Homo sapiens: one gene and its partners. The protein of the gene in region 3 purifies or fractionates together with the protein of the main gene of each other region. This does not show direct contact. Each region holds a gene or a part of one and is shown on either strand. Other genes may lie near its edges. The genes, in order: FAM83B, FAM83F and POTEC.

Region 1 (3,652 bases), on a different chromosome or scaffold from region 3:
AATACTAGATGGCATCTTCTTCCACTAGAAGGCTGTGTCACCTACATTAAAAATGTGTTGTTTAGTGTCACTTTGTTCATCAATTATCTTAGCTAGATTTTCTGGATAACTTGCTTCAGCTTCTTCATGAGCACTTGCTGCTTCACTTTGCACATTTACATTTTGGAGACAGCTTCTTTTCTTAAACCTCAGGAACCAACCTCTGCTAGTTTCATACCTTTCTCCTCCAGCTTTCTCATCTCTCTCAGCCTTCACAGAATTGAAGAGAGTTAAGGTCTTGCTCTGGATTAGGCTTTGGCAGAGAATGTTGTGGCTGGCTTGATCTATCCAGGGGTGTCTAATCTTTTGGCTTCCCTGGGCCAAAAAGGATTGTCTTGGGCTACGCATAAAATACACTAACAACAATAGCCAATGAGCTTAAAAAAAGAAAAAAAAATTGCAACAAAAATCGAATAATCTTTTAGGAAAGTTCACAAATTTGTATTGGGCAGCATTCAAAACTGTCCTGGGCTATATATGGCCTGCAGGCCACAGATTGAACAGCCTTGAATTCTAGACCAATAAGATTTTCTCCCTATCAGCAATGCCATTTTACTCTCTCATGATGTGTGTGTTTACTGGAGTAGCACTTTTAATTTCCTTCAACAACTTTTCCTTTGCTTTCACAATTTGGATAATTGTCTAGTACAAGAGATTTAGCTTTTAGCCTATCTCAGCTTTCAACATGACTTCCTCACTGAGCTTAATCATTTCTAGCTTTTGATTTAAAATGAGGGCATGCAACTCTTCCATTCCCTTGAACATTTAAAGGCCCTGGTAGAGTTATTAAGTGGCCTAATTTCAATACTGTGCCCAAGGAGTGGGAAAGGCACAGGGGAATGGCCAGTTGGTGGAGCAGTCAGAACACACACAACATTTATAGATTAAGTTCACTGTCATATGTGCACATGATTTGTAGCACCCCCAAAAAATTACAAGAGTAACATCAGAGATCAATGATCACCAAAAAAAGATATTATAATAATGAAGTTTGAAATATTGTGAGAATTATCAAAATGTGACACAGAGACACAAAGTGAGCATGTGCTGTTGGAAAAATGGCACTGACAGACTTGCTTAAGGCAGTGTTGCCAGAAACCATCAATTAGTAAAAACACAATTGCTGCAAAGTACCATAAAGCAAAGCACAATAAAACGAGATATGCTTCTAATTTTACTTGTACAGATTTTTAGAATACCAAAGTAGAGAACTGTGCTGATAAAGATGACAGACAGAAATAAAGAACTGTAAATAGGCCAGGCGCAGTGGCTCACACCTGTAATCCCAGCACTTTGGGAGGCCGAGGTGGGTGGATCACAAGGTCAGGAGTTTGAGACCAGCCAGGCCAACATAGTGAAACTCCGTCCCTACTAAAAACACAAAAATTAGGCCGGGCGCGGTGGCTCACGCCTGTAATCCCAGCACTTTGGGAGGCCGAGGCGGGAGGATCACGAGGTCAAGAGATCGAGACCATCCCGGCTAAAACGGTGAAACCCCGTCTCTACTAAAAATACAAAAAATTAGCCGGGCGTAGTGGCGGGCGCCTGTAGTCCCAGCTACTTGGGAGGCTGAGGCAGGAGAATGGCATGAACCCGGGAGGCGGAGCTTGCAGTGAGCCCAGATCTCGCCACTGCACTCCAGCCTGGGCGACAGAGCGAGACTCCGTCTCAAAAAAAAAAAAAAAAAACACAAAAATTAGCCGGGCATGGTAGCGCCTGCCTGTAGTCCCAGCTACTCGGGAGGCTGAGGCAGGAGAATCACTTGAACCCGGGAGGCAGAGGTTGTGGTGGGCCAAGATCACGCCATGGCACTCCAGCCTGGGCAACAGAGTGAGACTGTGTCACAAAAAAACAAACCAAACCAAAACAAAACAAAACAAAATGTAAATAAATAGGTAGTTCAACAGATGGTGAAATGGACAAATAAATAGAAGTATGAAATGGGAGATGAGAAAGAAGAAAGATGAACGGGAAAAAAAGTAAATCAGAAGGACTCAGAAGGGATAGATAAAAAGAGAAGGTAAGTGAAGAGAAAAACATAATGGGAGGGAAGAGAAGAGAAGCATAAAAGAAAAAAGAAGGAAGAGAAGGGACAAAAGGAGGATACAAAGGATGAGATGTGACAAAAAAAGATGAAAAGGCCAATAAAGATGAAAATGGAAAGGAAGGGTTGAAACTAAAAAAAAGAATCACAGGGGAACACTGTAAACAGTTACTTACTCTAAAAACAACTTAGCTATATTGCACTCATCTTTAAACAAATAAGTCAGAAGTTACATTTGAGAAAAATACAGCACTTTTTTTTTTTTTTTTTTTTTTGAGATGAGTCTCACTCTGTCACCCAGGCTGGAGTGCAGTGGCGCGACCTGGGCTCACTGCAAGCTCTGCCTCCCAGGTTCAAAAAATTCTCTGCCTCAGCCTCCCAAGTAGCTGGGATTACAGGCACCCGCCACCACGCCTGGCCAATTTTTGTATTTTTAGTAGAGACGGCGTTTCACCACCTTGGCCAGGCTGGTCTTAAACTCCTGACCTTGTGATCCACCCGCCTCAGCCTCCCAAAGTGCTGGGATTACACGTGTGAGCCACTATTTCCAGCCGTTAAAATATAGTACTTTTAAAACATCTGTTGAATGAGTCTTATGAGACTAGGTATTTGGAGTAACATGCTGTTAAGAATTAAAGCCATCATTGCCAGTGTGTATATATAAATGACAGCCCAAACATCTTATGTTGAGTTATTCTATTACCACCATTGAGATGGAAGATGACACTCTTTAGTGCTTTGAAAACTGCCTTTTCTTCTCCAAGTAGTAATGTTTATGTAATCAAAGAAGGAATCTGATGTTAAAGAACGAAAACCTTTTGAAATGAAAATTTGGCCAAAGAAGTGGAAATAATAAGCTTCACAGTGATACTGTGGGGAAACCTTAGTTAACATTATTTTATGATACTCTCAATAAGAAGTGATCACAGAGAATTTCAGAGCAGTGTGGGTGGGACACAGGAGTGACCACATAGTCTAAACCTTTCACAATACCAGTGAAAAACCTGCAAGCCTAAAGAATGTTAATACTTTGTCAAAAAACATGACTATCCCAGGGCTGCTAATGTTCAATTTCACAAATGATTAATGAACACAAACAACGTCTGCTGTGACCTTCAGAGAATAGGAAGGAACTACAAAAATCAGTGGACTTGATCCATTTATTTATTTGTGTACTTATAATTATCATTAGGTTCCTAAACTGGAAGCTTCCTAAGATCCAGGAATATATTTTTACTTTCCTACCCCTGGAGAGGAACATATTGCTTGGCAGATAATGGTCAATAAATATGTTTAATCAAAGGGATAGTGTAAAAGAGCACAAAGTTAGAGCCATTAGATAATCATCATCACTGCATAACTTCTCTATAAACTCTTCAACATAGGCCCCTGCCAGTAACCGGGAGACTACACCTGACTCTATGTCAGTATGCAAGAGAGGCTGACCATGACTAATTTAAGTTTCCCATGGACCAGTAATCTACAAATTATTTAAGACACAGCTGAAAAGATAAATGTCATGTGCCCTTAGGGGACTTCTCACCCCACTCTTAAGGACAATGTAAAAAT
Region 2 (3,652 bases), on a different chromosome or scaffold from region 3:
CAGGAAATCACACAGTTGCTAGGCTTGGCAGAACTGGGACTTGTTTTACCTGCAGAGGCAAGGGACAGAGGCGGGGAAGGATGTAAGTGAAACGCTTGGTGGATTCAGCTTCAGTTCCTACCCTGTGTGCTGTCCACATCTCCAGTTGAGGGGCTGGGGTCACTGTCTCCCTCCCAAGCTGCTGATCTGGAAACCAAGTCAATAGGGCACCCGGGAAAGTAGAAGGGAAGATTCTGCCTGTCTCAGCAGCCTCGGCAGGAGCCCCACTGGGTGGGACATCAAGGTGACAGCCATCTCCTGACCAAAGAGGGGTCGGGGAAGGATCCAGGCTGCAGAATCAATGACAACAACCATCAAGTCCAAAGTCTTGGCTGCTCTGTCTACAGACTAGCCATTCTTTTGTTTCTTTACTTTTCTAATAAACTTGCTTTCACACACACACACACACACACACACACACACACACACACACACACACACACACGTCTAGCCAAGAGGCCGCTCACTACCAGCTAGTACATGCAGCTCCACCGCCTGCAAAGTAAGACTGCGGTCCTTCTCTCTGGTTCCCCTCCCGGGCTGCCGCATTCTACCGCTGAGGTGCCCACAGCTCCCAGAGCCAGCCAGCGACAGTGCCAGAACCTGGCCTTCCCGGTCCAGTTCCAGCTCCTTCCGCCACAGGCCGCCTAGGCTGGAAGAAGGAAAGCTGGCGCCTCAGGAAAGGCTGGCGCTGGCCAAGAGCTGCCACCGTGGGGTGGATCACACTGCTTAGGACGCGCCTTTGAAGGGAGGACAGAGAGGAACGCGCTGCCTGTAGGGAGGGAAGGGGGAGAGAAAGCTGTCCCCCGCCCCCGGCCAGAGAAGCTGATTTCTCTTCTTCCCCAGGCCTCTACCATTCCTTCCCACTCTCTTTACAGTCCTGAGATGAGGCCTGCGGTTCCTTTGGCTGGATTCCTGCTCTCGGACCTCCGGAGGGAGTGCAGGGGAGTAGCGAGGCAGGCCTGACACCTGCAGGCCTGCGAGGTGTCAGGCGCTGGAGCGGGGAGCCCATGTCCTCGGAGCGCTGGCTGCCTTTCCCCAGGTGGAAGGCGCTCGTGTTATTTCCTGCCAGTTCCCCTCCACACAGCAAGGGCTGCCTCTCTGGTGCTCACACAACCTTCCAGTATCACTTCAGCTGTGAATTTAATTAAGGCCATGTCTGCCTCCTCTCCTGGGCCATGAGCAGGACCCACTGAACAGAGCCCAACTTGGAGCCCTGCCCTGCCACACAGGCTGCTGCTCCTGCCCACTGCACTGTGACCCACGGCCTCGGGCCTCATCCATCCAGGCAGACTGAACGAGCTCTTCAGGACTGACCACAAATCCAGCTGCACCCTCATTAAGGGTGTTCCCCCACCTTTGGGCAGGAGGCTGCGCCCCAAGGGCTCCATGGCCAAGGCGCTGGGGGTCACTTTCCGCAGTGGTGCCGAGCACGTCTGGGGCGGCTCTGCTAGTGGGATGAAATGCGGCCATCTTAGAGTCACTCACTGCTGCAATGGACACATTCGTCCCCATTTCCCCCCATCAGCTGGTTTGATTTGCGTGGCCCACTAAGCAGATGTCAGTTCCTCCCCAGAGGCAGCAGCATTTTGGAGGCAGGTAAGCAAATCAACCTCCAGATCGTTAAACAGGGGAGGCGGTGTAGCTGGGGGTGGGATGGTGGTGGGTGGTGGTGGGGGTAGCTGCTTCCCAAGCCTGCACACCACCCGGCTGGCTGCCTCCGGGAGAAGCCTGGCAAGGCAGGGGCAGGGCCCATCTTCACCAGCACCATGCTCCCCACTTTTTTGTAAGGCAGGGTGAAAGCCTGGAGACAGCACCTAGACTCAGAATTCATTTCCTAGCCCCGGACAGGACAGAGAAACTGGCTTGGCTTGAGGACAAACTCTGTGTCCCTTGTCATTCCCTGAGTGCTCACATATTGGGAGCTGACCACGTGTGGGGAGTCAGCCCTGCTCAGGTGAACAGGGAAGGTGTATAAATGACCAGAATAGTCTTTTTTACAAAGTATGCGTGGCCTGGGAGCTTCAGAGGTGACGCCAAGGTGGAGCTGAAAACGGGTGCAGGGTGGGAGGAGGGGCCGCTCAGCGGAGCGGAGCCATGTGACATAAGCATGGGGTGAGGGTGGCAGCCTGGGGCACTCGGGACCTGCAGTCAGTCTGGTTTGCTGGCAGGTGAGGTGGTGCGGGAGAGAGGGAGGCAGAGGTCACCCACATGGAAGCCATGACAAGGACAATGATGTGCAAACCGCATGCACAGGCTCCAGGGCTTCGCATTCCCTGTATCTGGAAGAATCTTCCCTCAGATGTCCACAGGGCCCTCTCCTTCCATTGAAGTCTTGCTCCGAGGCTCCTTGGTTAGAGAGGCCTTCCCTGGCACCCTTTATAGAAGGGTCATCCTCCCCTAATCCTCGTCTCTCCCCAGGGTAACATGCTCCATAAAAGCAAGGACCATGTTCATTCTGTTCACAGCTGTGCCAGGAACTTAGAGCAGGGCCTGGCACAGAGCAGACACTTCGTAGACACATATTTATTGAATAAAATGCATGAGACAGCAACGGCGAGCTACTTAGGGGTTTAGCACAATCCTAGTAACAACAGTAATAACAGCAGCAGATGCCCCAGACGCAGCAAGAGCAAGAGAGAGATCTGAGACCTGCGGCCCCAAGGGATGACACAGGAGAACAAGTCCCCCAATCCAGCGGCCCAGCAGCCACAGCTCTACAGAGCCAGACCACACTGCCAGCCAGGGGGCCAACCACACATAAATCCAGGGACCCCAGGAGAGTTCTGGAAAGGGACTGTCACTGCAGGTCACCTCAGAGAAACTGGGAAGCAAAGCACAGGCCCAGGGACTCTGGGGCAGGAAAGGACCCCGAGGCACTCTGGGAAGCAAGTTGCTGCTGTCATCTTCCTCTCGGCCCCCACAACACCGTGGGAAAGGGCTGGTCCTCTATTTGGGGCTCTGGTTCTTCCGAACAGTTTTTTGTTTTGTTTTGTTTTGTTTTTTGAGACAGATTCCTACTGTGTCACCCAGGCTGGAGTGCAGTGGTGTGATCTCCACTCACTGCAACCTCCACCTCCCGGGTTCAAGAGATTCTCCTGTTTCAGCCTCCCGAGTAGCTGGGACTACAGGCAAGTGCCACCATGCCTGGCTAATTTTTTGTATTTTTAGTAGAGACAGGATTTCACCGTGTTAGCCAGGATGATCTCGATCTCCTGACCTCATGATCTGCCCACCTAGGCCTCCAAAAGTGCTGGGATTACAGGCATGAGCCACCACGCCGGGCCCAAACAGTCTTTAAAGGTGCAGGGAAACGGTGCCGATCCTAGCCTTCTGGAGATGGCCATGATATCTGCAGAAGGCTGGGGAGGCAGGAGATCACACTGCCCTTTCTCCCTGGGCAGCCACGGACACAGGGCCTGGCCTCTCTGAACCTTGGGGGTCTCATTGTGAGATGCTGTCATCAGGCAGGATGGCAGCGAGGAGGACGCCAGTTCCATGTGATGGAGTATGGCACCATGTCTCTCGCCACTTCAAAAGTGTTGGCCATTTCCCAGTCATCTCCCTGGGGGAACTGGGTGGGGTCTCAGGCACAGCACAGGGATCTCCTCCC
Region 3 (3,652 bases):
TAGAACACCTGCCCAAGCAGAGACTCAAATATTGAGGCTAGCTAGATTAAAAGTGGTAGAGGGCAAGAAAGGGTGACAGCATGCCACACAGCAGCAAGAGCAGGAGCGAGGCCTGAAAGAGTGAAAGTATTTGCCTGCAATAGAAGGAGGAGTGAGTAGGGCATTAAGAGCCACTCAGTAATGCCAGAGAAAGGGCACACAGGGAAAAGGGCTAACGATGTAGAGTAGGGCAGAAGTCAGATTATGAAAGCCTTATGTGTACTTTTAAGATGCTTAGACATTAACGTTCAAGAGTGGTCCCTGGTCCTATCTGTATTTAGATGTAGATCATTTTAATGCCAAAACCAATATTCCTAGTGAGCCATTATTCATTAAGACAAGGTGACAGCTAGCTCATGTGGACACAGCTGAGATGATACTACGTAGCAAATTCTTAATAATTCTCATGAACACTTGGAAAGTCAATTCTATAATAAGTCATAGAAATTATAATAAATCACTTAATATTTGGGAAGGTGCTTTATAAAGTTATAGTGTATATGAATATAACTAATAGTTGTGAATTCAGAGCTGTGACAATAAAGCAAAAAATCACACTGTGTTTGAGTCAGCAATATTTAGATTTCTATCTAGTCTTCCTACCCAGTCCATAAATTCTAAGTATAATCCTAGTACTCGCTCTCAAGTTTAAGTTAAATGCTAGCCTATACAAAAAACACTCTTTCTCTTACTTCTTTTTTGTTATTTATATGTTGCTTTGTTTAAAGGAAGAACAGAAAAATGCCCTGCTAAAGGGATTCTGTTTGGCTGCAGGCTGCAAGAGGGGAAAAACACAAAGCACATTTTGCAGAAAATGATTTTTTAGAAGTCAGAACTATGACATGAAGTCAAGCAGGGCACTCTAGGACTGACTTTGCTGTGCTTCCTTAATATGCTCCTTGCTCTCTTTCTTTTCTGGAAGCTGTGACTCACACAGGTCATGGAGAAAATTTCCTACTCCTTCCTCATGTCCAGGTTAAATACTAGTGTACAACGTGGAAACCTGTAAATTATCTGACATTTCTCTCTGTCCCCCAAACCTTTCTCATTCAATTATCACTAAATCATATTGACTATACCTCTCTTCTTCCTCTGCTTTATATTACCACTGCCACTGAGAACATAAACATTTACAAAATGGCTTTTATTACAAACAACCCTTCCAACTATTAATGTTATTTCTTACATGAAAAAAATTAAGCAAAACAAATGAAAAAAGCATAACACCAAAAAAAGGCCAACACATTAAAATGAGTAACTGAGATTCCAAACTTTATTTTGCCATGGGCAGGTGAAAACCTTAGAATACATTGATACTAGTCCAAGGGTGTGTGACATGGAAACTATAGCTGACTACTGCAAAAGCTTCCTTTGTCTCCTGGTTTCTTTACATGGTTATCTTCCCTCAATCCCAGCAAGCTATAGGCCACAGGCCAAATCCAGTCTGCCTTTTGGCTTTGTAAATAAAGTTTTATAGGAGCTCAGTCATGCCTGTTTGCTTACATATAATCATGGTGGCTTTCACACTACAACAACAGACAACAGCCTGGTTAAGTAGATATGACAGAGACCACATAGTCTAAAATATTTCCCACCTGGTCCTTTACAGAAAAAGCTTGCTAACCCATTTTACACCATAAGCAGAATATGCCTTAATACTCAAATTTAATCTTGTAACTTCCCTGCTCAAATTTCTCCAATGAGCCCCTGCAGCACACATTGTTGGCTCCCTATCAATAGCCATTCCTTATTCTTTCTTGCAGAAGAAACACAAGTCTATTGGGATATTTATTATCCCAATCCCCCTCCTCAGCCTCAGAAAGAGAAATGTTTATTCTAAGTTAATCATGTATTTGCCTTCCCAGTGCCTGGTTTGGGAATGAGCATGTGGTGTGACCCAGCCAATGGAATGTTACAGGAAGCCCCTTGCATGCTTCTAAGTTTTCTCCCTGTTTAAAAGACACATGTGAAGAAAAGCAGCCCTTGAAATGTTGTGTTGTGAGAACAAGATGTTTGGAGCTGCTGCGGATTAGCCAACCATGAAAGGAGACATGAATAAAACACTGCCAACAGCACAGCTGAAAGAGGGACAAGTGGGATCCTAGGATATCACTGAACAACCAAAACAACTCTGGTTCCTACTGTTTTAGCCACTGCTCATCTAGTATTTACAGTCCAAAGCATTGTACCTGGTAAATTTCCCGTGGCCCACAGGGTAAGACCTACTCATTTCTATAGTATTTAAAAAGTCTATCATAAACTTGCCTTAGCTAAGTATTCACCTTATTCCCAACCTCTGGTGTCTCACACTTTTGGTACTAGCAAAAGTGAACTGCTCAGAAACCCTGCAAGGTTCACTCAGCATCTTGCGTTTTGCACTTGCTGCTCTTCCTGCCAAACAGGCAACCTCATTAGATGTTCTTCTGGCAAACACACAATCTTGTTGCATGTTCCTTCTGCCAAACATTATTCTTCTGCTTCTTTACCTAGAAAAATTCTTCTCACTCTGCATGCTTACCTTGAATCATACCTACTTTTTTTCAAAACTTTCATTCCTCATCACATATGTCTGGCACATAATTAATATATAATAAATCATTATTATAAGCTTCCAGTGGGCATCGAGCACACAGTAAGCACTGAATAAAGTAGTAAAATAATAAAAATGACAATGATAATAACAAGCTCCTGTCTGTATTTTTAATTGTGTGTGTTCTGTAACATTAGAAAAATGATTAGTATCTAAAGGACATTTAATAGTTATTTGTTAAGTGGACAAGTGAAAACATAGAAATGTTTTCTTTGTAAATTCTGTTGAAAAAGCACAGAAATGAAATAGAGACAGCTCTACTATGAGCACCTTAAGGATCAAAACTACATCTATTCCATCTTTGTCTCCTGCAACTTATAAAACCTAACTTACAGAAGCTTTTTGATAAATAGATGGCTAAATTAAAGGTGTCCTAATACAGTTTGGATTATACAATGTATTAGGTGTCCACAACCAGGTGGCATACTAGTATTTTTGTTAATGTGAAACATTTTTCTACTTTTATTATAATCTGCTGAGCCTAGAAGTGGGCAATTTGTATATTTATTATGACAATCTTTTGGTAAATGGTAGCAGAGCATCTTGTTCTAACAAAATTACTGTTATCAAGACAATTGACCAGCAGGTAGAAGAACACATCTTGTTCCAACAAAGTAAATGTATCTCTTTCCAACTTCAAATGAGGAGGAATGAAGTCAGTAAGAGTGAGACCTTGTTGGGACAAGGATATGTAACATGACTTGTGCTTTGGCGTTCTTTTGTGATCAAAAATTCCTTACTTTTATTTTTTTATCTACGGTAGGACCACCCAGAGCAGGGGCCCACAACTCTCAGGTCACAGACTGGTACCACTCCATGGACTATTATGAACCACACCACACAGGAGGAGGTGAGCAGCAGGCAAACCAGGGAAGCTTCACCTGTACTTACGGCCACACCCCATGGCTCATATTACCGCCTGAACTCTGCCTCCAGTCAGATCAGTGATAGCACTAGATACTCATTGGAGCATGAACCCTGTTGTGAACTGCTCATCTGAGGGATCTAGGTTGTGTGCTTCAT

The links.
Region 1: the proteins of POTEC (region 3) and FAM83B purify together in Homo sapiens (affinity purification with mass spectrometry; one large-scale study listed by BioGRID and IntAct). This does not show direct contact.
Region 2: the proteins of POTEC (region 3) and FAM83F purify together in Homo sapiens (affinity purification with mass spectrometry; one large-scale study listed by BioGRID and IntAct). This does not show direct contact.

What each region holds. Positions count from the first base shown.
Region 1 is NC_000006.12:54,849,723-54,853,374, reverse strand, and holds part of FAM83B (protein FAM83B), read right to left. Parts: intron 1-3,652. UniProt on the Homo sapiens protein: Probable proto-oncogene that functions in the epidermal growth factor receptor/EGFR signaling pathway. Activates both the EGFR itself and downstream RAS/MAPK and PI3K/AKT/TOR signaling cascades.
Region 2 is NC_000022.11:40,025,913-40,029,564, reverse strand, and holds part of FAM83F (protein FAM83F), read right to left. Parts: intron 50-3,652; coding exon 1-49.
Region 3 is NC_000018.10:14,526,521-14,530,172, forward strand, and holds part of POTEC (POTE ankyrin domain family member C), read right to left. Parts: intron 1-3,652.